2 separate regions of the Homo sapiens genome follow, and region 1 is linked to region 2. The links come from fine-mapping of genetic effects on gene expression. A gene starts in region 2. The other region holds a variant in brackets. All regions are shown on one strand. Distances are from middle to middle.

The links.
Region 1: its variant is fine-mapped to the expression of GAS1 in whole blood (TOPMed, PIP above 0.99). The same link has a PIP of 0.9 or more in blood mononuclear cells.

What each region holds. Positions count from the first base shown.
Region 1 is chr9:87,264,896-87,280,658 of GRCh38, reverse strand. LOC105376126 (a long non-coding RNA gene) reads left to right here. Exons shown (of 15, transcript XR_007061642.1): 3 at 1-232; 4 at 2,606-2,781; 5 at 2,893-2,970; 6 at 3,639-3,778; 7 at 3,960-4,016; 8 at 15,167-15,229. Among named protein-coding and RNA genes, the nearest start is that of LINC02872, 120 kb to the right of the region's middle. RefSeq lists an enhancer at 3,063-4,262. The variant T/C (reference allele first, on the strand shown) is at 8,392.
Region 2 is chr9:86,941,473-86,957,235 of GRCh38, reverse strand. It overlaps GAS1 (growth arrest specific 1), which reads left to right and starts at 9,730. Exons shown (of 1, transcript NM_002048.3): 1 at 9,730-12,874. The coding sequence starts at 10,457. The coding sequence ends at 11,494. It overlaps GAS1RR (GAS1 adjacent regulatory RNA), which reads right to left and starts at 8,538. Exons shown (of 7, transcript NR_049794.1): 1 at 8,243-8,538; 2 at 6,237-6,369. RefSeq lists silencers at 10,520-10,599, 10,670-10,739.

The DNA of each region.
Region 1 (15,763 bases), 320 kb before region 2:
AGAGGAATGCATCATTCAGGAGTGTAAAACAATTTCTTGTTTAAACAGACCCCAAGGCTTGAGTGGTTAAAAAAATTCCTCCCAGAGAGTGGAAATGAAAAAAGCCCTTCAAAAGGTTATTAATGTGGCCACTTGCAGACAAGGGAACACATCACGCGGAGTCTCTTGCTGATTTTACCCCATGGAGACTGGTTGTGGATGACGAACGATAAAATGGAAGCATCCAGCAGTGGTAACTTAATGTTGTGGTGGGGAATAGTTTTCTTTCCTGACCTCATTTGTAAGAAGGGAATGGAGGAGGATGAAGATGCCTCATTAGTGGAAACTATACACTCCTGTCTATTCACTTGCTGTAGATGAAAGAACACTCCAAGATACTGCTCCAAAAGGAACATTAGCCAAACTAGATCTTCTCTTGTAAATTTCAGAGGCATCTGTAGACATGGGTGACAGGGAAGCCTCCAAGCGATCAACTTCCCTGCCTTTCCAACACCTGAAAAGTGGCCCTGAGGTTTTCCATTGAGGTTTTCCAAATACAGGTTGCCAGTGCTTCTGAGTGTGCCCTGAGCCCTGGTGGTTGTTTTTAGGATAGAAAATACTTTTCTCTTACATGGCCACCTGCCCTCTCTCCAGGTTCTGGGGCTTCCTGAAGGCCCAACTGCCTTACCTCTTTTCTCCTCCTCAACCATCATACATTATTCTTATGACGAAGTATGTTCCAGAAATGGTGTTCAGACAAAAATTGTGACCAGGTTCGGTTATCCAACACAACACTGAAAGCTGCTGATTCTAGAATAGAGGTGATTAGGATGATCATTTATTTGGCAATGTTATGATCAAAGATGAATGAGTAGACTAGAAACTGTTTAAATGGCTTCTTCAGCACCCTCAAGTCAATGACTTAGAGCTTCTATCCTGTGTGCTGTGGGTCACTAAAATCTCTCCATCACCTGCCAGTTCCATTCTGTTAAATGTATATTAACAACTTTGGTATATCTTGTTAAGGGCTCTGCAGCAGAGCAATCCCTCTTACTAAACTGTTGGAGCACACCATTGCATACACATTTTTTCCCCTTTGCCAAAGGCAACTCTATCTAGGACAACTCCATTCCATCCATTCCAGGGCATGATGCATAGCAAAACGGAGCAGTCCTGTGACTCCATGCCCTGTCAGTGACAGCTCCAGACAAGACCAGACTCATGGACATGGTGGTGTTTGACCCTTTATTTCTCCCAGGGCTGCACTGTGGAAATATTATTCCTATTCTATCACATAAATGCCTTTTTATCACTGCCTTTTCAAATAACCAAGTAATTGAAGTGCAGTTGTCTCCCACATTATGTAGGACATTTTTACTAGCCTTGATTATATTTCCATTAGACTTGGTGTAGCTGACTTAGTAACTAGGCCTAGGACAGCAGTGATGGATTTGTCTGATGGTCAGTCATTGAGTGTGAACTCATTGAAACCTTCCAAATATTTGAAATTTTTCTAGATTCAGTTTGGACTCGATGTTTGCAATGAAGCCATCTTTTAAATTCCCTGCCCTAAAGTGACCTTTTACTCTATGAACAACTCATGCTCAACAGGGCAGAGACATAGTGTGACTTCCTCTCTTCTCTACAGCAGCATATTTACCTGCGAGAATGCCAAAGAACAGGCAAATTTCTGCCCAGTAGAGTGATTTTCAGTTGATCAGATTCAGTGGGGACACATATACCTCCTCATGGGAGAAACAGTGATGTCTCTGGAGGAGTGTTCACAGAGTAAAAAAGTATATTCAACATAATTAATTTTTTCTCAAAATAAATAGCAAGAAGTAGAGGCTTTCCAAATCTCCTAGATGATAAGGGATCATGGATAACAGAAAATAGAGTGGGAAAATGTTATGGGACAGAGCGACCGTATGTTCATGTGTCCCAGTTTATACCAGTTGTTCAGGAATCATTATTTATAGCACCCCTTTTATTCTTCAAGTATTTGTTTAGACATTAAATTATATGATTACCCTAGTTAAACAGAGCTTGGGAAGTACTCATCTGATAGGATCTCCAAAAAAGTTCCCGTGGAGTCCATTTTTGCATTGCTGTAAAGAATACCTGAGAGTGGGTAATTTATAAAGGAAAGAGGTTGATTTGACTCACAGTTCTTCAGATTGTACAAGTCTGGCACCAGCATCTATTCAGCTTCTGGTGAGACCTTAGGAAGATTTTTCTCACAGAAGAAGGAAAAGGGGCAGCAGGCACATCACATGATGAGGGAGAGAGAGAGGGAGAGGAAGCAAGAGAGAGAGAGGAGGGGTGTCAGATTCTTTTAAACAACCAGCTCTCCTGTGAACTAATAGAGTGAGGACTCACTCATTACCACAAGGGCAGTACCAAGCAATTCATGAGGGATCTACTCCAATGACCCAAACACCACCTATCAGGCCAACTTCTGACATTGGAGGTCACATATCAACATGGGGTTTGGAGGGGACACATGTCCAAACCATATTAGCTCCTAAAGTTGTCCTCAAATTCAAGGTGCAATGTTTGAGAAGAGAGTTTGTGTTAGCAGAATGGCTTCCCAGCAAAATAAGTTTTGGTCATGCATGTTTTACAGGAGAGATCAACTGTGTTTGGAAGAGATCAGATAGTGTTTATGAGCACACTGCATGCCATAATTCTGAAGAATCCAGAGGTAAAAGGTATTTTACAAGAAACAAATATAGTTCTTGTAATGGAAGCATTTAGATGTCACTATGAAGAGGAGTGATGGAAATTCATAGCAAATATAAGGTAGGAATAGAAATGCTCAAAAAATCTATTAGGTGCTTTTTTTTTCCTGACACTTTGGATATCTCCTCTTTAATAATGTTCTTAATTACCATTGTCTTTATATTGTACAAGGTAGACAAGTTGATTCTAACTTGGTTCTGGCTTCCTTCTTCTGCAAAGAGAGAGAGAAATAGCTGAAGGTGAAGCCTTGTAGGTTTGTTGCTCCTACGTTCATTTGGGTCACACGGTGGCTTCTCTCTTGATTATGTGGAGGGCTTGGATTCTTCTAGCCCAAATAAAACTTGGCCACATACCTTTGCTCAACATGCACTGACCTGGGGGAACAATATGTTGTAACACAAGTTGCAATTAGTCATTATTTTTTCAGTTCCTGTGTGAGAAACTATGATTTTAACAACCAAAACAACAACAGCAGCACCAAAACAAGATAAATGTGTGTAGCAAATTTCCTTAAATGAGCATTGCCAGTATATTTTTCTCTTGCTAAATAACCTCCTCCTGGATCTCAACATATTATTCCCCGCCCTCCCTCATTTAATTCAGAAATAAGGGACAACCCTTCCGCAGCAGCTGTCCAGAGACCACCACAGCCTGTGAGAGTCTCCAGTGGACAACGGTTGTCTGATTGAGACTCTTCCTGGTGTGCTCAGAAAAACCTGTACTTTTTTTGTTTCAATTAGTTTTATAGACATTTCAAGCTGGGGCCTGCATTTTTTTGTGGTAAGCTCACCCCTCAGCACTCCCCATGGGGCTCACTAACCTTGGCTACCTTCATCGTTTATGGGAGTTGAGCTGTGCATGCTTGAGACTGCCATTTGTTTCTTCTTGCATTGAAATAACTTGCTTTTCTCTTTCAGCAACCCTGGGGTTCAACAATTTGAAACTGCTTCACACCAAGAGCAGAGAAACTCGCTCTGTGGTTATCACCTCAGAGAGACACAATACCCAAAACCTGAGAACATTCGCCTTGTTTTGTTGGAGTCAACACATCTGCCAGGTTATCTGTCTTCAGTCAACATGGCTCATAGAAATCCATGCTGAATTATTTTTTAGGAAGTTCGGTTTTGTTGACGATGGAGTTAAATGTTATTCGTGTTAAAGTGAGTCTTTAAGAAGATGGCCGGCTGTGTTTCTACATAGTTTTGACATCTGTCTTCATTTCTCATTTTTCCTCTAAGATGTTCTGCACATATTTGTCAATTTCTGTGGTCTGACTCAGAGCACAGGAAGTGTGGGTAAGTATCAAAAGAAAAATTCTTTGAGAATTTCTTTTGCTCATTCCCTGTTCTTCTGGTAAATGAATGCCTGAAAAGAGAAGGCAGTCAGTTATCTCGGTTTGGTTCAGGGTAACAGGAAAGTTGCCCTGAATTAAACATTTCTGTCCTATTGGCCAGCTGGGGCACTTAAAAATCCCAATCTTTAGACCACACTCTCTTAATTGTGGCATGTGGGTTTCTAGGAGTTGTAATTAAACAGCCCACAGAAGGTGATTTTACAGTTTCAGCTTTTTTTTTTTTTTTGAGATGGAGTCGCGCTCTGTCGCCCAGGCTGAAATGCAATGGCATGATCTGGCTCACTGCAACCTCCGCCTCCTGGGTTCAAGCAATTCTCCTGCCTCAGCCTCCCAAGTAGCTGGGACTACAGGTGCCTGCCACCATGGCTGGCTCATTTTTGTATTTTTAGTAGAGACAGGGTTTCACTATGTTGGCCAGGCTGGTTTTGAACTTCTGACCTCAGATGATCTGCCCGCCTTTGCTTCCCAAAGTGCTGGGATTACAGGCGTGAGCCACTGCACCCGGCCTACTGTTCCAACTTTTAAGTGTGTCTTCCTCTCCTTCAGATTCAGGCCCTTTGGCCAAGGATAGTGACAACTGATTAAGGCATAACAGGCCTCTGTCAAGCTGCTAATCAAGTTATGGGGCAGTAGGGACCAACATGCATGATGCCAGCAGCAGCCCAGGAATCTACCCACAGGTTAACCTCAGACTCTTAGGAAGACGCTGGGGCGCAGGATAATACAAGGAAGAGGGAAAGGATAGTGAGAAGGACCTATGTCACTCCTTATGTAATTTTCCCTAGTGTTGTCCAAAAAGAGTGTAGACAGGGTTTGTAAAAATATGCACCTGAAAAACCATGAGTGCCTTTATCTGTTGTTTAAAATTTACTTTCAATTTTTTTGGTAACAACTTTATTGACATGTAATTCCTATACTCCACAGTTTACTCACTGAAAGTATGCAATTAGATGGTTTTAGAATATTCATTCACAGAGTTGTTCAACCATCATTTAGGAATTTGCTCGCCTTTCTATCCTGCCATTTCCTCTCTCTGGAATGTTCTTACCCCAGTCATCGACTCTCTCCCATTTCATCATTTAAGTCTTTGCTCAAATGTCACATCCAAGACGCTTAGTGCTCTTCCCTTACCAAAATCACCACTCCACCCATTCTCCTGCCTCCCTCCTGCTCTAGTGTCTGGACAGCACATCCCCCTCTGCCATGTTCTCGTTTGTCTCCTGCCTGTGGTCCTCAGCTCCTCCAGGGCAGGACGTTTGTCAGGACGTTTGCTGCTGCCCCAGTTTCTGGGCTGGTGCCAGACTAGAATTAGGGGCTGGGAGGAGGAATGGAGGGGGCTGGCTGGCTCTCCTCTCTGCACCCAGCCCGTTGGAGGAGGGAAAGAGACTGGAGCCCTAAACAGACAGGGCTGGCTCCCTACAACTTGCTACTGGGTTGGCCAGGAACGGATGCTGCTATAGTCACCAAGCATTGGCTGAGGTGAAGTGCGAGGAAGCTCAGCATGGGCCTATGGGAACTTGAGCCATATAAATTTCTGTGTGAGCCCAAGAAATTATTTGCCATCTCTGAATGTCTTTAAAATGAGGACATTGGATCTCTGGCTCCTTGTAGTTCTGACACTGGAGTTCTGATGGAATTCTTTGATCAGGTGTAATTGAACAAATGCAGTTAAGGTGTCCCGGAGTGCTTTCTTTCATGGATCCCATCTCTCCAGCTACCTTTGCCACATTAAGCTGCTTATATTTCCTCCCTCCTCTCCACGCCCAATACACATGCTTTTGTAAAGACAGAGTTTTCTAATGCCTGGGGTCTTAGATCTATACGGCAGGAGAAGGGCTAAATAGAAAGTGTGATTTGGGTGTGCTATTTGAGCTGGAGCTAAATTTGAGTAAAAGCTTTGTCTGTGAGTTTACAAACATACAATTAAGGCTCTCACAGTTATCTAAATCCATTTTCTTGCCTTATAATTTTATGGTTAGAAGCATTACAGTTGTTTTTAGATTTTCATTATAACTGCAGTAGCCACAGACGGAACCAAATAGTGTTTGTTTATTTGTGTGACAAATTATGCCCCTCAGCTAACTATACTGTGTAATTTGCATTGGGTGTGTGTTTTGTGAAAGAAGTATACATTGGTCTGAGGGTCTTTTCTTCTCTTTCCTCTATCTTCTTCCCAAAGCAGTGCTGATAATAGAAAATTGGAAAATAAAAGGCACATTTGTGTACTACACACACGCTTGACTTCAGATTCCACTCCCCACCATTGTAGCTGGGTAAACTTGGGAAAGTCAGCTTATTTCCTCAATTTTTTTTTCACACAGTGAACTTTGTTCTTTTAAAATACCTTATTTACAGATCATCAGTAGGGGAAGAGTAATTTAAAGTATTAGGAACTTCAGGCCAGGAGCAGTGGCTCATCCCAGCACATTGGGAGGCCGAGGGGGGTGGATCACCTGAGGTCAGGAGTTTGAGACCAGCCTGGCAAAACCCCATCTCTACTAAAAATACAAAAAAATTAGCCGGGCGTGGTGGCGCATGCCTGTGGTCCCAGCTACTAGGGATGCTTAGGCAAGAGAATTGCTTGAACCCGGGCAGTGGGCGTTGCACTCCAGCCTGGGTGACAGAGCGAGACTCCATCTCAATTAAAAAACAAACAAACAAACAAACAAATAAATAAATAAAGTATTAGGAACTTCAGTGTCACTTGAAGGTTGATTAGAAATGAAAATCATTTCTGATGACTTAGGTACTTCCCAGCTATGAAAACTCCTGTAGTTAGTCAACTCTGCCTCTCTGCTTTTTCTTTAATTTGTTATTTTTTTTATTGTGGAAGAATACATATAACATAAAATTGGCCCTCCTAACCATTTTTAAGTGTAGAATCCAGTGGTATTAAACACATTCATCAAGTTGTGCATCCATTACCTCCATCCATCTTCAGGACACTTTTCATCGTGTAAAACAGAAACTCCACACTCATGAAATAGTAACTCCCCATTTGTCCCTGCTTCAAGCCCCTAGCGACCGCCATTCTCCTTTCTGCCTCTCTGATTTTAACTCTTCTAGGTACCAGGTATAAATGGAAGCATACTGGATTTGCTTTCTGTGACTGGTTCTTTTCATTTAGGTTCATCTATGCTATAAGCTGTGTCAGAATTTCCTTCCTTTTAAGACTGGTTAATACAATATTCCATTGTGGTATATCTACACTGCATTTTGCTTATCTATTCATCTGTCAGTGCACGCTTGGATTGCTTCCATGTTTCGGCTATTGCGAAGAATGCTGCCATGAACGTGGGTGTACAGATATCTCTTTGAGGCCCTGCTTTCTATTCTTTTGGGGATATACCCAGAAGTAGCACTTCCATATCATATGGCAACTCAATTTTTAACCGTATGAGAAACCACCGTACTGTTTTCCACAATGGTTGTACCATTTCTTTTTTGTTTGTTTTTAACTTTTATTTTAGGTTTTGGGGTACATTGAAAGGTTTGTTACATAGGTAAACTCATATAATGAGGGTCTGATATACAGATTATTTCATCACCGAAGAATTAAGCCCAGTACCCAATAGTTATCTTTCCTGCTCCTCTCCCTCCTCCCACCCTCCACCTTCAAGGAGGGTCATTGGACATTGCACTCCAGCCCTGGAAACAGAGCGAGACTCTGTCTCAGTTTAAAATAAATAAATAAACAATGTATTAGGAACTTCAGTGTCACTTGAAGGTTGATTAGAAATGAAAATAATCTCCGATGACTTAGGTACTTCCTAGCGATGAAAACTTCCGTAATTAGTCAACTAATTGACTAATTACAGGGTCTGTTGTTTCCTTCTTTGCATTCATAAGTTCTCATCATTTTGCTCCCACTGATTTGCATTTGAGTTCAAACAAGATAATTTCTGAACTCCTATTGCAAATTGCTAAATGCTGTCTAAATATCTACTAGAGATGATTAGAATGATGGTTAATAAGTGCTATATTTCACATCAGGTTAAAATTTCTTCCAAGATATCTTTCTTTTATCTGCATGTATAGAATTTAGATCTTAGCATGAATGGGGATGAATTTATATCCATCTGTCATCTGAGATACTCTATGTGAACAAGGACCACTGTTGATCTGGCTGACCATATAAAATATCAGATAACAAAACCTTGAAAACTCATATTGGGAGTGTATGCTTTTGTCTAGTGCTTCTGGTCCTTTTAAGCAGCCAACAAATTTGCATTGAGACCTTGCTGACTGTGGGTATCGGTGATTTTTGTCCATTGACGATTTTATCTTTAGTTGCTACTTCTTTGGTTTCAAAGAAC[T/C]ACATGTGACAAAAAGTGGCAATGTCTTAGGAAGTGGTTAAGCTGAGTTTATAAAAAAGGAATTGAAAATATGTAAACATTTAAGCAATTTGAATTGATTAGGAACTTGGATGGGGGTAGTGCTTCAGTTTAATATAACTCAAGAGTTCTAGATAAATCATAATTCTTTAGATGAAGGCTAGTTTGTTCTGGATTCCTGCTGAGATAAAATGATCATAAATTTACAAGTAAAGAATAATGTAAATACCTTAATGTCAAAGTATTGCTTTACAGTTCATACAATACTTCTCAGTAAGTTGTATCCTGAGAGATCTTGTTTCTGCTACATACCAGCTGATGACCTTAGCAATGACCATCAGGCTGTGGACCTTAATTTCCCCCACCCCGGTAGGGTAAGAGGCGTGGTCTGGGCTCATCCTTCCAGCAAAGCTCTGTCTAGCTAAAAAAATCTACAACCCTGGTAACTTCCACTTTTATTCTCTCTGCTTTGTAGATTAGAAATCAGAGGAGGTGTGAGTCTCTCATGATTGGATAGACTGATTTAATTACAATTCTTAGAAAAATATTAATGCCTTTCTTCCTCCATTCCCTGTGTTTTGGGCTCCTGCTGTGAGTCGGGCCTTCTCTAGTGCTGAAGACACGGAGTGAAGAAGGTGGCCTCTGCCCTGGCCTTCTCCTGGGCTCTGGGGTGAGCCGCTGTCCTGGATTGCTCTGGACCGAGGGGCTTCCTGCCCAAACTGGGAGAGCCCCGGGCAAACTGGGATAAGTAGGTCACTCTAAGTGGGAGATACTGAGCATAAATGAGTATTTTTTTTTTAAAGTGAACAGTTTCAGACAATGACCAGTGTTCTGTGGGAAACCCTCAGGATAATGCAGTGCTGAGCATTTTGGGGTGGGGGTGGTGTTGGTGAGCTAACAAGGCCTCTGAGGAGACCACGGATACGCTCCAGGGAAGAGGGATAAGGTGGATGGAGACCTGGTGAGAAATAGAATGTTTGAGAAATAGATCAGTGACCAGGATGAACCCTGTGAGCAAAATCGTATGTTCTGGAGGGAGGGAGAGGTAAGGGCGTTGTGGGTCTTAGTAAGGACCCCATACAATAACAATAGCTACTGTTACCTTCTGGCACTTCACTTACTTCATTACAACCAATTCATAATCACCCATTTTACAGATAAGAATACTGAGACATAGAGGCTTTAATGAATCGTATCTAACGTCATGCAGCTTGCAGATGGTGAAACCGAGACTTCAACCCTGATGTTTTGGTGCAGAACCCACAGTTGTCCTTAACTGCACTCACCTGAGGGGAAGCCCCTTGGCCACCGCAAAGCTGTCCCTATCCCTCCAAACTCTTCATCCCCACCGCACTCACAATCACTCAGGAATAAAGACCAGCTTTGTCATTTGCAGTCGCAGTTTTCACCAAGCCAGTAACGGCACTGGGGGAGGCCTCTGCTGCTTTTGTGGCTTGGTTCCAGTGCTGAATGGGGGTAGTTATAGGATGGCTTAGAAATAGTCACTCTGCGTGTAATCAGGTCACTTCACTGCAAAAACATTTTTGTTTCCGCTTCCTTCCTTTTCTGGATCTTATCCAGGGAACAGTGTCTCTGACCTTCTAAGCCACAAAGGCCAGAGATAATGGGGCACAGCAGGTTGATGTCGTGAAAGGAGGGGAGAGTCCGTGGTCAGGATGAGTGTGTGGGCACACACACACACACACACGCGTGGGGAGACAGTCACTACCCAGGGTGTACGTCATAACGTATGCTTAGAAAAATACTGCTAAGAAATACACAGAAACTTTCCTAGTGTCGAATTCTCTTTTGTGTGTCTGAGATCTCCCTTCGGGCTCAGAGTAGAGTGGAGGAGACGGGCATTCACTCTGGGCAAGTACAAAGAAAAGCACGTGAAATTCCTCCCCTTCTTGTCCTCATCCTCATCCTTGCAGCTCACATCCAGCGCCGGCCTGGGCTTCTGTGGTCTGTGTTGACTCTGATTGCCTTGCCAGATGTATCGGCAGTGTTGAGACTGGATTGGTTTACAATTTCTTTCAAATCTGCTTAAGAATGAGAGAGACCTTTTTCTATAGGGGAAACATAATGTGTTCTACTTGATTAGGGCTGGAGGTAAAAAATAAAAGCTATATGGAAAATTCAAAGGATTTAGGTTTTTATTCTAAATTTTAAAACTTACCCATAAGAGATTCGATGGAAAATAATGAGCCCTAAAAAAATATTTTCCAGAATCAATCATGATTTTTTCATGCACATAATGTTGGTTTAAGGCTTGGGAATCAAGAGAAAAATGCAGAAGGAATGTCATATGTTTTGCTTTACAACTTTCTCTCCTATTGTTTGCGTTTCACACTTTCACACTCAAATCTCTCTTCCATTATTCTTTGACTTTTATAAATCTACTGAACATAAATTCTGTTTAATTATAGCATGGTTCACGTGTACTAGAGAGTTATGTTAATAATGAAAATGCTGTTGATTAGTAATCAAAGACAGATTTCGTAAACAGAGAAAAGGAGGCGAGGAAAGGTTTGGGGTTCAGGAAGGAAAGCCTAACTTCCTTCCTCACCATTCTCCCACAGCTGCAAGGTTTTCCAGGTTACTGTGGCCAGGTCGCAGCCCTGTCTATGCAGTGATGTGGGTGTTGTGCTCTCTCTTTTTTCTGGTAACAATTTTCCCTCCCTCCGTGGCCCCTGTGGACACTGATGTTTGTGTCTCAGTTGGCCCTGGGGTGTGGTGGTGCTGCTGTGAGGAGCACTGGTCACAGCTGGCCTGCATCCTCAGCAGGTCCCCAGGGGGACTTTAGGCAAACCACTTAACCTCTCTGAGCCTCAGTGTTCTTACAAAAAGAAGATGCAGTAACAGCCCCAAAGGGTGGTTAGAATTATTTTAAATATCTCATGTAAAATGCCCAGTGTACATCAGGTGTCCTGCCATCAGAGGGACTCAATGATTTTGATTATTATTATAATTTTAAATCTTGACTGTTGATACGAAGTGAGAAACAAATGAAGTCAAGGCCCCAGGGCACTGCGTTTGAGGCTGTCGGGGCTTGATGTGGTTCCAGGTGTGGCAGGAGTGCTGGGGATGAGCGGGTACCAGGCTCCAGCCTGCCCTCCCCTTGCCCCATCTTGGCACTGTGACGGCTGGCAGCTGGGTTCCCAATCAGGCACTGAGAGGCCATGTGTTCCTTTGTCATAGGGCATGTCCACCTCTGGTGTGTGTTTAGCCCCAGGCAAATCTTGAACTAAGTCTCAGTGTCCCGGGAAAAAGAGCACTGGACTCAGAAGTAGAAGAAATGGGGCCGAGTGTGGTGGCTCACGCCTGCAATCCCAGCACTTTGGTAGGCCGAGGCAGGTGGATCACCTGAGGTAGGAGTTCGAGACCAGCCTGACAAACATGGTGAAATCCTGTCTCTACGAAAAATACTAAAATTAGCCCGGCGTGGTGGCACATGCCTGTAGTCCCAGCTACTCGGGCCCCTGAGGCAGGAGAATCGCTTGAACACGGGAGGTGGAGGTTAGAGTGAGCCGAGATAGCACCACTGCACTCCAGCCTGGGTGACAGAGTAAGACTCTGTCTCACAACAAAACAAAACAAAACAAAAGATATAGAAGAAATGGGCCCTAGTCCCATTCACAAGTCACCTTGGGTGAGCCGTTTCAGAGCATGGGTTCCTCTGATAGAAAGTTTACATTTTCATATACGTCTTGTGGTTTCTGAAGGGAAGTTAAATGAGAGAATATGTATGTGAAAATACTTTGCCTACTCAAATAATAATATCAGTGATCATAGAGGTTTTTGTTTTTTTTTCTCCCCAGGGCTCAGTATTCCCCTACTATCTGCTTACTGCCTTTCCAGATCCTCCCTTAAAATGCTTTGCTCAAACCTGTTACATCTTCAAGTTTTTTCAGCTTTCTTGTCGCAGGCTCCATTCCTAATTCATGCACATAATCTGCCATGTGCAGACACAGGCACATACTCATTCAACTTGTCCCATAATCTTTAGGGTCTTGCTCCCTGTTACTTAGCCTGAAGAGTAGCCTGACAATATTTTCAGAGCTACTGATGGGTTGATGTAACCCAAGATTGCCTGTGGTAGAGAATACTGCAGACTAGGGTTTGGCCAATTTTTTTTCAGTCAGGGGCCAGGTGGCTAGGACAGAGTTTTGGAGCAGATGAGGGTTTTGACGCCCCCTCTCTTCCGCCCTTCCATGACTGAGTGTCTCAACCTGGAGGTGCGGGTGGGGCTGTGTAGAGGCTCCCTGAGGAACGCAGGAGGTTGTTGAGCTGTTGATTGGCCTGAGGTGGCTTGAAGGATGGAAATTTACAAGTCGGCCAAGAGCCTTCTCTCTGCCAAGGACTGATTCAGAGTTCAGGGATTAAGCCTCTGGCATGGGGATTAAATTGGGATCTCACATGCACAGATCCCACGGGCACCAGATGCTGGGCTGGGTCTGGCACACGCACTGTTGGCTCTGAGAAGCTCCTCAACCCCTTGTGGGCATCAAAGTAAAGAAAGAAGTGAGTGGTCCCCCTTTTCTGCATTTAGCCTTGATCTGAGATGAGAACATTCATTGGAAACAACCAAGGAGCATGAAGGAATTTCTTCCCGAGGCCAAGAGTGATGAAACGGCTGAGTGTTAAATTTTCAGTAGGGATACAGAGAAACATGGGCACAAAACTCAGTTTCATCCCCACGGCTCTGTTCCACTGGCTCTATCACGCTGCTTCTTGTGGGCCTGGAAAATGTTCCCCACTTTCCGAAGAGCTGTGTCTTTGCTCAACATCCACATCCCAGCAAACGGGATCCATTTCAAAAGAGGCTTTTGATTACTCATTGTCATTTTTGAACCTCTTGTTGCTGTCAGTCATCAGTAAACAGTGCTCTTAGGAAAGCCCTAAGTAGGAGAGGTTGAAGACGATGCTGTGGGCTGGCACAGCTTTTTGTTTTGCACATGCGGAAATTGAGACTGGGAGTGGAATGTGAGCAGTTCAGAGTTAAACAACTAATTCGAAGTGAGTTGAGAACTGGAGTCCAGTCCTCTGGGCTTCTGTTCCAGTGTTCATGAGACAGAACAAAACTGCTGCTCTGTAATGATAAGGGTCATGGGGTTACAGGCACCAGTGGTTGATGTGAAACTGTATCACAGAAAGAAAAAGAATTTATTTTTGCTTTTTGACCTTGAGAGGTAAAGAAGTTTTCCCCACCTCTTGTAGATCTAACCTCATCAAATCATACAAAAATCAATTTTTGTTTACTTGCATGGAGATTATCTTTTCGTACTCATGTATCAGTCAGCATAGGCTGAGTTACATTGTGGTAACAAATGACCCCCAAAGCTTAGTGATTTTCAAACACAAAGTTGGATTTTTCACTCCTGCTATATGTGTGTTGGAAGTTGCTGAGTTTCTGCTGCTTATCTCTTTACTCTAGGACTGAGGTGGACAGAACTCTCTCAATTTCAGGGTTGGGAAATTGTGAGCTGTGGCAGAATCTGGCCTGCTATTGTCTTTGTTAATCAGGTTTTATTGAAAGATAGACATGGTTATTTGTTTATGTACCGTTTTCACACCACCACAACAGGATTAAGTTGTCATAATAGAGGCAGTATGGCCCACAATGAAGATAATCTTTACTTTCTGACCTTTTACAGAGCAAATTGGCTGATCCCTGGTGTATCTGAAACATGGTGATCTGTGGCAGAAGGAAACGAGACAGAGCAAACTGTAGGCTGGTTCTCAAAACTTCTGCCCAGAAGTGACACATGGTCATTTCTACTCCCATTTCTTGCACTAAAGCAAGACATGTGACATGTGGCCCCTCTTGATGCCAACAAAAAAGGGGCAGGAAATCAGCTGATTCCAACATAATTTGTATTTTATTTGTATCTGTGTCTGTATTCTTGGTTGCAAACAACAGAAGTGTACTGTGTTTAATTTAAAGAGAAGGAATATTAATGTAAAGGTTATCAGGGAATCATGCACTTGAGAGGAAGGCTGAAGAAGGGGCCTCTGTGGGGTGCAAGGACACAGAGCCACAGTCCCACTGGAGGGACGGCCTCCGTAAGCTTGCCCTCTGGCATTGCCAGCAGTGGCCCTTCTCCACAGCACTGCTTGTATCTCTGAGGCCACTGTGAGTAACTTTAATTGAACTTTAGCCTGGATGTTACTCCTTCAAGATTCAAAGTGCTGGGTGGGTACTGTTTGTCGACCACCTTTAAAGCATGTGGCCATGTCCTAGCTGCTGGGAGGGTTGGGGAGATGAATAGCAAGACTTTTTCATCTTGGTAGGAGGAAGGGGCCCTGCTTTCCCTAGAGACTTATGAGTGGAGGAATCTCATCAACATAAGAGGCCACGCTAAGAAGCCTGGGAAGCCTAGGAAGCCCTGTCGTTGTTCACGCGAATGGTCAATTGCTTGCAGTTGGAAGCTGAGTGGGAAGTCTGGCAAACGTCGGTATTGCTTGTGCTTCAACTTCTTAAGTGACATTTTCCTACAGGACGCCTTCAGCAGGGAGCCTGGAAGGATCAGAAGAAGATGGGAGAACTTCCTTCCTGCTGGTCACTTAGGAGCCAGAATGACCTTTGTTACCTGGACTTTTCCTTTTCTCCTCCTCATCATTGTTCCATCCCCACTAAGACCTTCATTATTTTGGAAATATTAAGTTAGAAATCTAGTCATGGCCAGCATGAGAGAGGGACAGGGATGCATACAGGAATCAAACTGAATACATTTTGTGTTTTCATTCCCCGTAGGTACTTCTGCTGGTGTCAATCATTGGGACTGGATTATGTCTAAGCATCTTCAACCTCACAGGGGTAATTTGAAAAGTTGAGGAGGGGTTTGCTTTTGAAGAGATAAGCTCATATAATGCAGAATCCAGCCTTTATGGGGATCAGGGGGTCACTCCAACCATGGCCTTCACAAACGGCCTTCAACTGTACCCCTTGGGTTCATATCCAAGTGAAATTATTAGTCTAAATGATTGAAAGATAATAATATCTATTATACAATTAAAAACCTGTATCCCCTCCCAGATCATACACCTACAAATTCATGTTTTAAACTAATCTTCCATGTGGTGAGTGACACAATTATATTGCGTCATGCTTTTTTGCATTAAAAATATTAACTTGTGGCTGGGCATGGTGGCTCATGCTTGTAATCCTAGTACTTTGGGAGGCCCAGGTGGGTGGATCACAAGGCCAGGAGTTTGAGACCAGCCTGGCCAATATGGTGAAACCCCGTCTCTACTAAAAATACAAAAATTAGCCAGGCGTGGTGGCGCCTGTAGTCCCAGCTACTCGGGAGGCTGAGGCAGGAGAATTGCTTGAACCCGAGAGGTGGAGATT
Region 2 (15,763 bases):
AGAATGTAAATAATAGAGGAAACAGGTGGGGGGAGTAGGAATTGTGCGGGAACCCTCTGTACTTTCCAATCAATTTTTCTAAAATTGCCTTAAAACTAAAAGTGCTTTTTAAAAAAAGTCTAGTAATAAAGAAAGAAAAGAGGAACAGAGATGGAAGACTTGAAGAAAACATTATTTGCCTTCCTAGAACATACAGTGGGAACTCAATAAACATCTGTTGGATTCAACTGAATCAAATTCAGTGAGAAATGAGCAGGTAAGTGTGCATATAAATTTAAAATTTAGGAAAAGTGTGAACTCATCAATGAGGTGTTTGATGAAGTCCTAGGATATATATTTCATTAAAACGAATTAGATGGCTTGTAATCTTTATCAATAAGATTACAGATTTTTCCCAAGACATTTATGACAATTACAGATTTTCAGCAGTAAATATGTAAGCAATTGTAGTACTTTTCTCAAATTGTCTAGAGAAGCATTAACCTGAAACTTACAAATTTTGTACAAGCTTGTTGCTAGATTTTTTTTTTCCTGTGGATAGGTTTTTTTGGGATGTCTATTGTCTTTATATAAATCCTCACAAGATAAAAAGCAGACTTTTGAGGCATTTGATAAGTTCACTTACAAACTATGTTATTTTTATTTAGAAAACAATTTATCTAGATTTATGAAAGAGTTAAATTATTTAAAAGTTTCTTTTTTTTTTTTTTTTTTTGAGACAGAGTTTTGCTCTATTACCAGGCTGGATGGAGTGCAGTGGTTTCATCTTAGCTCACTGCAACTTCAGACTCCCTGGTTCAAGTGCTTCTCTTGCCTCAGCCTCCTGAGTAGCTGGGATTACAGGCATGCACCACTACGCCCAGCTAATTTTTGTACTTTTAGTAGAGATGGGGTTTCACCATGTTGGCCAGGATGGTCTTGATCTCCTGACCTCGTGATCTGCCTGCCTCGGCCACCCAAAGTGCTGGGATTACATGCATGAGCCACAGCACCCAGCCAAAAGTTTCTTCTTAATTTCAGTAGTGAGAAGCTAGATTTGGAAATAAGGCCTAGCACGACTTTGAAACATACTAACTACGCATATTGTAGAATCGGCCCCAATTATTGGAGAATTTAGTAGGTAATGCCCAAATGTGCCCAAGGTACTCTCTTGGGGGAAAAAATGCTCTTGGTAGAAATATCGTTGTACTGCTAACTGGCTAACTGCAATCCACTGAGGTTGAAGCATGTTGTGCCTCAAATGTTCTATGTTGTATCTTGCCAATGGGTTTAAGTCTCTATTTCATTAATATCTCTTTTCAAAAAGTATGAAAGTCGAGTTTCCTGATAATTGGAGCTCCTACTAATTTTGTGGGTATTTCCTCATGTTATTAGATATTGAAACTGAGCCAGGATCTTGATCTCCCCAGTTCCAAAGCAATGATGAGGGGGTGTGTTTTCTGCTCCATAGAGAACAGTAGGCTGATGATGTTAAACAGCTGCTCTGTCTCTGTTGATACACTCATCAGTGAAAGCGGGATCGTGTTGTCATTTTGCATCTTGGAGTTGTTATCCATGTTCTCTGAAGAATTAGAAGTTTGTTCCTTCCATTTTTATTAATCTTTACACAGCGCCAAATCCTTATGTTCCTGTGCCAGACAACTTATTTACCTCTAAAACCAAAGAAAATAACCAGTATCCATTTCTTTTTTGTATTTTAATGTATATATTTCACAGTGCTTCTCAAATTGTCTGTTCTGAAACTGCAGAATTTTTTTGTCTATCATAGATAGTTTGTAAAACAAAATTTTTGAAGTTACTAGAAAAAAGAATACCTACAAAACAGAAGCCTCAAATTTTATTATTAGCTTCAACTGACATCATATTACTCTATGAGATAGCTATAAAAGTATTCAAATGCCTGCTCTAATGAGCTGAGTGGTCCATCTCATCAGGGACCACTACAAAGCACTGGATCACATTTGTGGAGCCCTGGTGTAGCGGCTGATTTTTCTCATCATGACAGCGTTGGTTTTCCTTCAGGAAGTGCTCTCTCTCTTTTTCTCTCTCTCTCTCTCTTTCTCTCTCTCTCTTTCTCATCTCTTTCACTAAGGTACATGGGCACATGGCCCAGATCAATTGAGGTTCCAAAACTTTTGCTAGAACTTTTGGAGGAAAAAAGTAATTATTTCTATTGGAATGGCTAGAATGCAGATAGTGTCCTTCCTTATCAGTATTTATTATTATTGGAAAGATTCTCAGGAATGGGTTGGGCCAAACAGTATTTGTATTTTACATTTTAAAGGTATTGCCAAAAAAGAATCCAACATTTCACATTTACACAAGCAACTTTTGAAGGTATCTTTATAAGAACTGGCTGTCAAAGTGCTTTCACATTTTAGTCGGTCTATGGAGTGTTAAAGTAATATCTCATTGTTTTCTAATTTCTTTTCATCTAACTACTAGTTAATTTAAACATTTTTTCACTTGTTTGCTGACAATTTGGATTTATGCTTCTGTGAATTGTCTGTTTCTATCTTTCACCCATTTTCCCTTGGTTTGTCCTTTTCCTGTTTTTTTTTGTTTTGTTTTGTTTTGTTTTGTTTTGTTTTGTTTTGTTTTGAGACTGAGTCTTGCTCTATCGCCCAGGCTGAGGTGTGGCAAAATCTCAGCTCACTGCAACCTCCACCTCCCGGGTTCAAGCAATCCTCCTGCTTCAGCCTCCCGAGTAGCTGGGATTACAGGCACCTGCCACCAAGCCTGGCTAATTTTCGTATTTTTTCTTTTTTTTAGTAAAGATGGGGTTTCGCCATGTTGGCCAGGCTGGTCTCGAACTCCTGACCTCAAGTGATCCGTCTGCCTCAGCCTCCCAAAGTGGTGGGATTACAGGCGTGAGTCACCGTGCCTGGCCCTTTTGCTGTAAATTTCTAAGAGCTCTTTGTTTACTAGAAAAATTTGTCTTTTTCATCCACTATCTTAGTTTGGGCTGCTATAACAGAATATCATAGACTGGGTGGCTTAAGCAACAAACATGGATTTCTCAGCGTTGACTACAGTTACAAAGAGTATGTGCACATAGAAAGGGGGCGGTGAGACTTTACATGTATTATCCAGGAGTAGAGCGTCAAAAGGGAGACTTTCTCTTGTAATCCCTTAAAGCTGGGGGACAGAAGCATTTCTCTGCTAAAGAGGCCAACATACCAAAGTCCCCGGAGAAGGGCAGGATGGAGATGCCATGGTGGATACTCAGAAGAGAAATTCCAGTTTGTGTGTATGTGTGTGCACGAATGAGTATGCGTGAGTGCATGCATGGGTATATGTTGTGCCTGTGTGTGCCTGCATGAGTGTGCACGTGTACATCCATATATGTATGTGAGTACATGCATCATATGTATGTGTATGTGAGTGCATGTGTGTGTGCACATATACGTTTGTGTTTGGGGGCACAGGCAAGAATAGATGGGGTTAAGTATTTGGAATGGGTCTTTCGAACTGCGTTTTTTTTTTTGTTTTTTTTTTTGAGACAGGGTCTTGCTCTGTCATCCAGGCTGGAGTGCAGTGGTGATCATAGCTCACTGTAGCCTTAACCTCCTGGGCTCAAGTGATCCTCCCTCCCCAGCCTCCTGAGTAGCTAGAATTATAGGCACGCATCACCATGTCTGGCTAATTTTTGTCCTCCCTCCACAGCCTCCTGAGTAGCTAGAATTATAGGCACGCATCACCATGTCTGGCTAATTTTTGTGGGTGTTCTTTGGTAGAGATGGGGTCTCGCGATGTTGCCTAGGCTGGCCTCAAACTCCTGGCTCTAGTGATCTTCTTGCCTAGGCCTCTCAAAGTTCTGGAATTACAGGAATGAGCCACTGCACCAGACCTCAAACTGCTGTAACACTGGTAGTGACCTTGGACTTTTTCCTGAGGAGTCACTATAAATTTTTAAGTGGAGTAGTGATTTCATCCGACTCATTTAACATCAGCATGGAGGATTGCTTTAGAGTAGTTATTCCAAAATGCTGTCTGAAGATGCAAAAGTTTCTGAAGAAGTTTCCCCTGTGTCGTAAATTCAGTTAAAATGAAAAAAAAAAAAATAGGACAATATAGTAAGTCCTTTAAATATCTAAATGTATTCAACTCGCCTGTATTCTCTGGTTATTCTTTCTCTGCCTTTGGGGTTTCAAATCCTCTTTATTTAATAAGACACTGGTGTTAACAGATGGTAGTAGTAGGTTTGTTTGTTTGTTAATGCTTGATAAAATAAAAAGTTGGCATCTTTTTTTAAAAGATATTCCAGATTTTTTTTGAAAATAAACGGATCTTTGAAATCTCAAAATCTAGCAACCACTGATGTTGAGTGGTTGAGGCAGAAATATGCCATTGTGTGTGTGTTTGTTTTTTTCCATAGTACACATTCCTTGGCCCCTGGGGAAGAATTCAAGTGTAATGAAGTTGGCACAGGCATATGTATTTTGAAAAAGCTCCCGAGTCCTTTAGAGATGCTTCTCTGGTTTACAATCCCTGGTTTGGAGGAGAGTTGGGAAAGACCTGGTATTCAGCAATGAAGAAAACCTTGAAGAAACCAGGACATGAGAAGACAGGGAGGGTGAATGTGAACAACATTTTTCTTAGATGGAATTAATAGGGCTCAAAGATGCGAAGATGGTCCTTGCCGAAGATATAAGCAAAGCTGGGGTTCAGGAGGAGGCTCCAGATCATTAGCTGGGAGAATGACCCTGCTTTACTGTGCATGAAAGGGATTTCCTTCTACATGAGGTTCCCATCCTTCTATCTTGTTCCCAAGAATTAATTCTTCTTAAGAAGGCAACAGACAAAGGGAAGACTTTTGTGAAGAATGAGGTAAACCTTCAGGATACAAAGTCTAATGTAGAATTCTAGAGTAGATGGTGCTTGGTTTCCATGCAGTATCTGCCACAAACTGAAGTATTAATATTTTCTGGTTTTAAGAATGCAAGTAAATAAAGAAAACAAGAGAGTGAATGTGATATGGTTTGGCTCTGTGTCCCCACCTAAATCTCATGTTGAATTATAATCTCCAGTGTTGGAGGAGGGACCTGGTGGGAGGTGATTGGATCATGGGGAAGGGATGGAGGGAGTTCCCCCATACTGTTCTTGTGAGAGTGAGTTCTCAAAAGATCTGGCTGTTTGAAAATGTGTAGCACCCCTCTCCTTTGCTCTCTCTCTCCTGCCAGCCATGTGAAGAAGTGCTTGCTTCCACTTGCCTTCAGCCATGATTGTAAGCTTCCTGAGGCCTCCCCAGAGGCAGAAGCCTATAAAGCCTTCTGAACCATGAGCAGATTAAACCTATTTTTTAAATAAATTACCCAGTCTTTATAGTAGTGTGAGAACACACTAATACAGGGTGTCTGTGACTTAAGACTTCTGCTAAGTGGTTAGAGCCTCTGACAACTCCAAATGGCCAAGTGACATATTGTTGAGTCCTCTGAGGGCAGAAGTCTATCTCCTCCTACTTTATCTGGGTTATGTTGCTAAAGCACCAAAAGGTAATTGGTATTTGTTGATTGAGGTTTTTGTTCTTTCACTGAACCAGTCAACCCTTTTGGAAATATAATTTTATATTTTAAAACTTCAGAACTATTCTGTATTCTTTAATCTCTCAGGGTCTTTATTACTGTTCTTTGTAGTAGAAATGATTTGGACTAGTTCTGAGTTGGCTGATTTAGAAGACAAGAAGTGCTGATTCTTCATTCATTCAACTTATCAAATATTTTATTGACACCTATGATGAGCCATTAATTGAATGTAGAATGTGAAGAAAAGGAAAGAATTCAGGCAGATACTAGCATCTTTCACCTAAGCAATTGGACAGGAAGAAAAGTTCTAATGCTCTATTGTTGCATAACAAACCATCTCAAAACTGAGTGGCTTAAAAGAATATTTTTTTGTTATTTCTCAGGATTCTTTGGGTTGACTGAGCTAAGCTCTGCTCTTCTTGCTTGAGGCAAGACCAGAACTAGAGAAAGGTGAGTGTAGTGTCTAAAGTACAAAATTTAAGGAGGCACTCACTCTTGGAGTCTTGGAGCCCAATTATGAAGGTCAATGCCTCCTTACATTTTGCACCAAAATGCCTCACTTGCTTCACGCTGATCTTGACCCTGGCTTGGGGTCTCTCTCATGTGTCTTCAGTAGGATGGCAGCTAGAGCTGGAGTCACCTGAAGGTTCAGCTGGGCTGGACATCCAAGTTAGTGTCTCCACTCACAAGTCTGGTGCCTTCTTCACTCACATGGCTGAAACAGCAGGGAGCTGGCCAGGCATCTCTTTCCTTCTCCATGTATCCTCTACACATAGTAAGCATGGGCTTCCTCACAGCATGCGAGTCTGAAGGTGGTCCAGATGTCTTACGTGGTGACTGGCTTCTGCAGAGCAAGTATTCCAAGAGGCCTGATAAGGTTTGGCTCTGTGTTCCCACCCAAATCTCATCTTGTAGCTCCCATAATTCCCACATATTGTGGGAGGGACCCAGTGGGAGATGACTGAATCATGGGGGTGTATCTTTCCCATGCTGTTTTCATGACAGTGAATGGGTCTCATGAGATATGATGGTTTTAAAAACAGGAGTTTCTCTGCACAAGCCCTCTCGTTGCCTGCTGCCATCCATGTAAGATGTGATTTGCTCCTCCTTGCCTTCCACCATAATTGTGAGGCCTCCCCAGCCATGTGGAACCCTAAGTCCAGTAAACCTCTTTCTTTTGTAAATTGCCCAATCTTGGGTATATCTTTATCAGCAGTGTGAAAACGGACTAATACAAGGCCCGAGTAGAAGCTGCAAGGCTTCTTGTGATCTAGCCTTGGAGGCCCCAGAATGTCAGTCACTTTCACTATGTCCTATTGGTCAAAGTCAGTAAGGCCTACCCAAGACTCAAGGGGAAGGGGATTATACTCTGCCTTTTGATCTGAGTAGTAAGGATGTAAAGGTAGGGAGAAAAGTGATGGAGACCAATTTTGGAGGGTATCTACCACAGTAAGCCCAGTAAACAAATAGGTTTTGGGGATGGAAATTTAGAAGTGCTCTTGGGGAAGCTTAAGTTTGAGATGTCCTTGGAACCAAGTGAATATATACATATGGAGATCAGAGAAAGACTGAGATTGAAAACATCAAATTAGGAGATGCAATTTAAAATCAAGGCACTAGATGTGGTTACCTAAGGAGTTGAGAGACAGAAGGAGCCACCAGGCAGTAAAATGAGAGAACAGGGGAGTATGGAGTTTCGGAAGCCAAAATTTTAGAAAGCGCTTTGAAAAGGAGGTGATCAGTCATGGCCAATGCTGCTGAAACGTCATATAAGCTGAGGACTGAGAAGTGACAATCAGGTAGAGCAAGGTTTTGGTCACTAGCGACTCTACATAATCGAATGGAACTCGATTATGTAGAGTGAATCGAGTGGGGAAAGTGAGTAAAAGCAAGATTTTCAAGTTTTCATGAAAATGGGATAGTGACTGAATAGGGACGTGGAGTCTAGAAGGTTTTACTATTATGTTTTTTTAAGATAGAAGACAGTATAGCCTATTGTGGTGAATGGAAATGACACAGTAAAAAGTGGGCTGAGAACCCCTCAGGCTTGCAATGCTAATGCTATGTGACTGGGATGCAGAAGTCCCCAAAGCATGCAGAGCTCTTGGGCCTCCCTTAAACCCCACTGAGAGCTGTATCAAGGCCAAGGTGGGGCAAGTGTTACCAAAAACACAGCAACAACACAGAAAAGAAACATGTTAACTTTGAGAGCAGTGATTCTCAAAGTTTGAGAGCAGCATTCCCTGAGAACTTGTTAGAAATGCATATTCTTGGGACCCACCAGTCCAACTAAATCAGAAACTCCAAAAACTAGGGATCTGAGTTTTAGGATACGTGCTAAGGTTTGGGTCCCACTATTCTAAAGGAACTCAACAAAAATTCAAGTAAAGATGAAACCGAGTGCTGACTTTGTTCCTTATGGGCCTAAAATAACAAAGCTTTAAAGACAAGAGGGGATTTTTCAATTGTCTAATTGGCTTCGAACCTTACCTGTGGAGGGATCCCAGACACAGAGAAGGTGTCTGAGTTGTCCAAGTCCTCCAGGCCGGACTGAGAGGACAACTCCAAATAATAGAGAAAAAAAAAGAGACAGAGAGCCAGGGATATGGTTGTTTTGATGTGCCATGAAGTTGCAGCCTTTCTGGATTTTTTTAGTATCGATTTATATTGCTGTTTGTCTACCAATACTCAAATCAGAGCAAGACGGTCCGCCTTACCTCAGTCTGGCTCTTTTAAGGTTTGATTTTGGTTTTGGGGACTGCAGAGGTGCAGCTTCCCACGGCAGACCAAGCGCCTCTGAGGAACGCAGCAGCTTCAGCAGGTACAGGAAGATTTCCCGCAGCCGGAGGAATCTCCTAGTGCTGGGCCTCCGGCTGTGACTTTTGCCATTTCAAATTCACTTGGCCTCTAGGGAGAGGCAGACAGCCCGACGCTGAGCGCGTCGGAGCCCCGGCTCCCTCTGCTTCTGGAGAGGAGATTTAGCCTTAATTTTTGTGACAGATGGAGTTGATAGTCTCTCCACGGAAAGGGGAGGAAAAAAGCGCCAGTTTTTGACAGGCCGCAGACGCCCGCTGCCTCTGGTGGCGGAAGGCTGCGTTGCGCCCCAGTTAAGGTAGCTCGGAAACTCCCTCGCCGAGAAGGCAGAGGTTTCCTCTGCAGAGCAGCCTCCCTTAAATATACTGAGGGGCTGAAACTTACACTTTAATATAAACCTTTGGTGCGTGCCCATTTATTCCGTCTTCTGTCCTGTGACTGCGGCCAGGTGGTAATTGCTCGACATTCCTGAATATTTTTAATGCTAGTTAAATTTTTTCATTATTGCACGTGTTGCAAGCTTATCTTCCTAAGAAATTATTTCGGTTGATTGGATTTCGGTCTTGCAATTTGAAAACGATGCCTGGCGCACGGGCGGTACCTGCCAGATGGCCTAGCTGGGGCTGGGGGGTGGCGGGCGGGTTGTAAGCATCTCATCAACATCTCCCTAATAAAGTGTGTGCTTCTTTCTTGTATGCTTCTTTAAAACAGTTTCAGTCTCACATTTTATCTCTGGATTCTCCCCTTCCCCTCTGTGGTGATCAAGACCCAAAGACAGGGAGCCTGGAAGATAAACTGAGTTCTGAATCCAGTCGAAAGCACAGATGGGGGCCAGCGAGAATTAATAAAACTACAAAAAAAAAAAAAAAGAAAAAAAAAACAAACAAAAAAGGCCCGTGGCTGAGCCGGATGCAAACAGCTGCCCCTAAGCCCTGCCCGCTGGTTCTGTGCGCGAGCTGGGGCTGCATATCCGAGCCTCCTTAAGAGTAGGAGGAGCTCCGGGCCTCCGTCAGGCTCCCTAAGCCGTTCCTTTCAAGCCCTGAATGCCTGAATGTGAGCTGCCCACCACCCTCCCGCCCTCCCCCACTCCGCAACCCCACTCCAGCGGCTCGTAAAAAAAAAAAAAAAAACTTTCAACAACAACAGGCAGGACCAATAGCATCTCGAAAAGCCGGGAAAGGGGGCCGAGCAAAGGGCGAAAGAGAGTGGAGAAAGGAGAAAGCGGGCAGGCTCGGAGCGCGCGGGGCCGGGGCTCGGCGAGCCGGAGGAGCGTTGCTAATGTTTTTGTTTGTTTGCTTTTCCATGCATGCATAATGAGGGGGCACCGCGGCACCACGCGGGGGCTCCCGGCCCACTTTTGTATTTAAAGCCTCGCTGCTAACGAGTCTGCAGCCGGGCTCAGCGGATCCGCTCCCCGGGCTCTTGGTCACCCGAGAAGCTGCCGCCGAGTGAAGCCAGGGAGCCGCTCTCCGGCAGCGCCGACTTTCTTGTTCTCCCCGCGCTTCCCGGAAAGAGCTCCCCGGAGCTCTGCGGAGGCCGGGGTTGCCGCGGGCGGAGGGGGAGGGGACGCGGGGCGGCCGGGCCGCGGGAAGGCGGGCAGCGCGCGGACGCCGGGCCAGGAAGCGGCGCGATGCGAGAGACCGCGGCGGCGGTGGCGGCGGCGAGGCACTGAGCCCAGGAGGAAGGAGCCGCCGCGGCCGCAGCGCGAGCAGCCGGCACGGGGACAGCCGGCCGCACAACGGATCTGCAGGCGCGGAGCAAAATGCACCCGCCGCGCCGCGCGGTCCTGCAGCCCCGCCACGGCCCCGCGGCCCGCACCCCCCCGGGGCGACAGTGAGCCTCTCCCGCCACCACCGGGGGCCGAGCGGAGGGCTCTCGGGTGGGAGAGCGGGACCAGATCTCGACAGCTGTTCATTTCCAGGAAGCCACCGCAGCCAGAGCGAAAGGGGACCTTCTGCCACCAGCGGGGCATCAGCCAGCGGCGCGCATGGATTTATGAAGACACTCATGCAAGAAGTGGGCAGGACTTGGACAAACTTTTCCACCGGCTCCGCGTCCGCCGCTCCCCGCGCCTCGTCTCCTTTCCCCTCCTCTCCCGGCGGCCGCCGCTGCCCGCGATGGTGGCCGCGCTGCTGGGCGGCGGCGGCGAGGCCCGCGGGGGGACAGTGCCGGGCGCCTGGCTGTGCCTGATGGCGCTGCTGCAGCTGCTGGGCTCGGCGCCGCGGGGATCGGGGCTGGCGCACGGCCGCCGCCTCATCTGCTGGCAGGCGCTGCTGCAGTGCCAGGGGGAGCCGGAGTGCAGCTACGCCTACAACCAGTACGCCGAGGCGTGCGCGCCGGTGCTGGCGCAGCACGGCGGGGGCGACGCGCCCGGGGCCGCCGCCGCCGCTTTCCCGGCCTCGGCCGCCTCTTTCTCGTCGCGCTGGCGCTGCCCGAGTCACTGCATCTCGGCCCTCATTCAGCTCAACCACACGCGCCGCGGGCCCGCCCTGGAGGACTGTGACTGCGCGCAGGACGAGAACTGCAAGTCCACCAAGCGCGCCATTGAGCCGTGCCTGCCCCGGACGAGCGGCGGCGGCGCGGGCGGCCCCGGCGCGGGCGGGGTCATGGGCTGCACCGAGGCCCGGCGGCGCTGCGACCGCGACAGCCGCTGCAACCTGGCGCTGAGCCGCTACCTGACCTACTGCGGCAAAGTCTTCAACGGGCTGCGCTGCACGGACGAATGCCGCACCGTCATTGAGGACATGCTGGCTATGCCCAAGGCGGCGCTGCTCAACGACTGCGTGTGCGACGGCCTCGAGCGGCCCATCTGCGAGTCGGTCAAGGAGAACATGGCCCGCCTGTGCTTCGGCGCCGAGCTGGGCAACGGCCCCGGCAGCAGCGGCTCGGACGGGGGCCTGGACGACTACTACGATGAGGACTACGATGACGAGCAGCGCACCGGGGGCGCGGGTGGTGAGCAGCCGCTGGACGACGACGACGGCGTCCCGCACCCACCGCGCCCGGGCAGCGGCGCTGCTGCATCGGGCGGCCGCGGGGACCTGCCCTATGGGCCTGGGCGCAGGAGCAGCGGCGGCGGCGGCCGCTTGGCGCCCCGGGGCGCCTGGACCCCACTCGCCTCCATCTTGCTGCTGCTGCTTGGGCCGCTCTTTTAGCCCTCGCGCCCCCCGCCGTTGGCTGCGGGAGAGCCCGCGTCCCACTCCCGTGCTCGCCTCGACCCCGCGCCGGGCACCTGTGGCTTGGGACAGATAGAAGGGATGGTTGGGGATACTTCCCAAAACTTTTTCCAAGTCAACTTGGTGTAGCCGGTTCCCCGGCCACGACTCTGGGCACTTCCCCTGAAGCTCCTCTCCGGAGCTTGACTTCTTGGACCTCCTCCCCCGCCCCAATTCCAAGCTCCAGAAACTCCCAACTCGTCTGCCGTCCAGAAAGCTAGCTGCAGTGTTCAGGACGTCCGGGAGGAAGCAAGCATGTGGGGGACAGAACAGTAGTCCTGGACTCGAAAGGGAAGGTGCTGACCAGTGGGGCCTTAGCAATTTGAAGGGTTGGGAAGGAGGAATTATATTTGCAAAGGGGCTGTCTATTAGCATATTTCCTTTGAGGGGGCAAAAAAAAGTGCCAGTATCGACTTTTACAGATTGTGGCCAGTGAGGATATTATAATCCTATGTAAACAGAAAAGTCCCACTTACCGATTCATTCTTTCACTGTTTGTATCTGCGCCCAGAATTCTCAGTGACGTGGGGGTGAGGGTGGGTGGCGATTGCCTTAGAGGGAACCCCTAAATTGGTTTTGGATAAGTTTGAGCCCTTGACCTTAATTTCATTGCTACCACTCTGATCTCTTAGCACATTTCTTAGGATTAAGGGTCCAAAAATGCTGATCTAAGGGGTTGCCATGGTGTTGAACAATGCAACTTTTTATTTAAAAAAGCTCTGCACTGCCATGTATGAAAGTCTCTTTATGATGTTTGTTTTTTTGTCATTTTTGTTCTTTACATCAAGAAATTTTATGTTTAAATATGCGGAGAATGTATATTGCCTCTGCTCCTATCAGGGTTGCTAAACCCTGGTACATCGTATATAAAATGTATTAAAACTGGGGTTTGTTACCAGTTGCTGTACTTTGTATATAGAATTTTTATAAATTGTATGCTTCAGAAATAATTTATTTTTAAAAAGAAATTAAAAGTTTTAAACTCACATCCATATTACACCTTTCCCCCCTGAAATGTATAGAATCCATTTGTCATCAGGAATCAAAACCCACAGTCCATTGTGAAGTGTGCTATATTTAGAACAGTCTTAAAATGTACAGTGTATTTTATAGAATTGAAGTTAACATTCTTATTTTCAAGAGAATTTATGGACGTTGTAGAAATGTACAAATGCATTTCCAAACTGCCTTAAACGTTGTATTTTTATAGACATGTTTTTTAAAAATCCTAAGTTTTTAAATAACTATGGATTTGTGTATTTTTTTTGGTTATTTGTTTTATTAAAACATGTACATCAGTAAAGAGTTTTAAACAATGAATATGGTGTAGTTACTTTCCAGAGTTACATTGTGGTTAACCCAATAATGGGTGAGGAGGGGGGTTGAGGGGGCACTGAGAATCTATCAACCATCAACTGAAATGAAAATACAGTACAAGACAAGAAATTATTTCTGCCTTTAATTTAATGAACAATTAGACATCTGTAAATGAGGCAGCCAAAAATATGTAATTGACTGGCTTCTATTGGTGTTTGCATTTGTGGAGAGAATTCACAAAATAGTGTCTCCTGTACATAATTTGAGGATAACTCAGACATGTTGCCCCGCCTCCCCCTTTTCCCCTGAGACCTCCCCTCTTTGTATCCCCCTTCCCATCACCCCTTACCCCCAAGAGTATCCTCTCTGGCTACTAGCCATTCTCAATCAAACATGCCAATAACATCTGTTACCAATAGGTTTTAGGAAGCTTGCAAGCTCAATACTTCAAAGTCATTTTCACACTTTTGGTGAAAAAGTACAAAATTTTGTTGCAAAACATTCAGACCAGCAAAAGTAAACACACAGGGGAAAGGAACAATCACCAGAACTTGTAATATTGTTGTGAGGAGTTGTTTAGCAGTGGCTGAAGGCTGGGTTCCTGCCAGAGCTACTGATCTACACTCAAACGCCCTTAGATAAATAATTACACTCTTAAGCTGTGTCGAGTGCTGATACACTTGACCTTGTAAATAGAAATGTTTGCAGTAGGAATAAACTCCGGCATTGGAAAATCTTTTAAACATTAACACAAAAGAGAGCGCTCTGTCCTCTAGGGATTTGAGCCTGAACCTCGCCAAGCTAGGCACTTGCAAGGGGGAAAAAAAGTTTATTTATCTTCTATTCCTGGTGTTTGTTTAAAGCTTTTCATTTTAAACGCGGTGATTGGAAGGCAAGTCGGGAGTTTAAAAGTCACCACAAATAAACTTTGTCTGAGGGGTCGACAGATTAGCAAGATCTGGTGTCTCTTTATTTGATATTAACATGTGCTGAAAAAACATAACCAGATTTCTCTGCTGCCTAAAGTAATTAACGAAGCTATGCCCCCATTCTGACTTCCTCATACCCACTCCCACCCCCCTACTTTTCAAGGTTTCTTGTGCTTCTAACTCGCTCTTTTCCCAGCTTTTATGGAGGTATTCAAGACACTTCTTGGTGCACCTAAAACCACGATTTCTATATGTATAGTATTAGAAAGTCTAAGATAGCTGTAGTGTCAGACTTAAGCCCAGGAGAGTGGTGTGTGGTTGGAATCTCCAGTCACCTGAATGGTTGAGTAAACATATTGTTAAAACAAAGCTGAGAGCGTTGTTTCTTTGGGAAGCGAACAAAGAGTATTCCCAGAGACTTGTAAATGAAATCAGCTTTCTTTACAAAACGACAAGTTAGCAGTGCTCCTGCGTTTGTCCTTAAATATATTTAAATCATCTCCATCTCATGTTATTTTAACACATGCTTGACTAAAAGTTAAGTCTTTGTCCCAGTAAAAGGCCCAGTTTTCCCCAGTAAGAAGTAAAAGGCATTAGCACTAGAAAAGGCCTGATAATTAACTGCTACAATAAACTCACAACTTGATTTTACAGGGTCCTGTCAAAAGCATCTGCCTGGAATAAATCAACACAACTCGCTCTTGGGGAGAGAGGACACGAGGCTTTATGTTTTCTTCCTTAAAGAAAGTGAACATTGATTGGTGGTCCATTTTAATTTAAACAATTATACACTGGAGCCCAGGAGTCCTCTGGTACCCCTACAGACCTAGCGGAGGTTGTTGAGATGTTAGAACCCTTTGGCTAGTGGTTATGAGATTGCATATTGCCATCTGCTTCTAAGCAGAAAGGATTTTTACAGATGTTGACATCTGTAATATCTCACGCTCTCTGGGGAGCCTTTTGGAATTTTGGACATTTGGCCATCTCAAATGTCCCATGGAGAATGGCTGGAAGTCCCATTAATGAAAGAAAAGGTATCTCTGGCTTTTCCTGGGGATTCTCAAAAAGCATCACCCTTCTAACAGAACTCTGCCAGAGTGAGAGGAACTCCTTCTAGATTTCATGTAAAATCATGAGTCCTCACGGCCTTTCCCATTTCCCCAGTTAGCAGGTTTGAATTCTCAGTGACAGTTTATTTGTCTTTGGAGGCACTTCAGTGACAAATGTTTAAGGGAGTGTGGGACAATGGTCGAGAACAAGGAGGCAGTTCATTGAACTGACAGTGACCATACAGTAAATAGAAGGAGGTTCAGGCTTCACTGCTCACCCGAGCACACAGCAACGCTTTTGTATATAATCACAATGGACATAACATAAGGTCCCTGTTTATTTTAAACAATATATAGCTATGTACGTGAGCAATACACGTATGTAAAGTGGAAACGTGTCTGTAGGGAAATAAGTTCTTCTACTAAGTAGCAGGACTTCTCTGTACTTGGACAGCAACGCTTCAAATGTCTAGAAGGATGGACACAGCTCCTGGCCCTGACTGCCACAAATTTAAGGGACCACCAGGCTCTAACACATCTAGGGTGCACCGCCATTCTCCAGATGGGGTCCCTGTGAGTGAAGACAGAATCTTTCCATCTCTCTGCCTTGAAGAGTCAGGAGAACCCTCATGGGAGTGAGCTTTCTCTGTTCCTTGCCACCATCTGTATTGACACCCTCACCCCATCCCAGCAATGTTACAGAGAATCAAATAAAAATAGATCCCCAAAATACAATGAGGACTTTCAGAAACCTCAAACATTGTATTAAAATTTTGTCTACTTTTAAACTTTGGCTTTGCATTGTTAGCTTGTTGAGTTCATTGTGGAGGCTCTCTAACAAAATAACCTCATGTATCTCTTTTCAACCCATAAAAAGAAAAGCCTGCGTTATTTGTGTTTTGACCTCTTACACC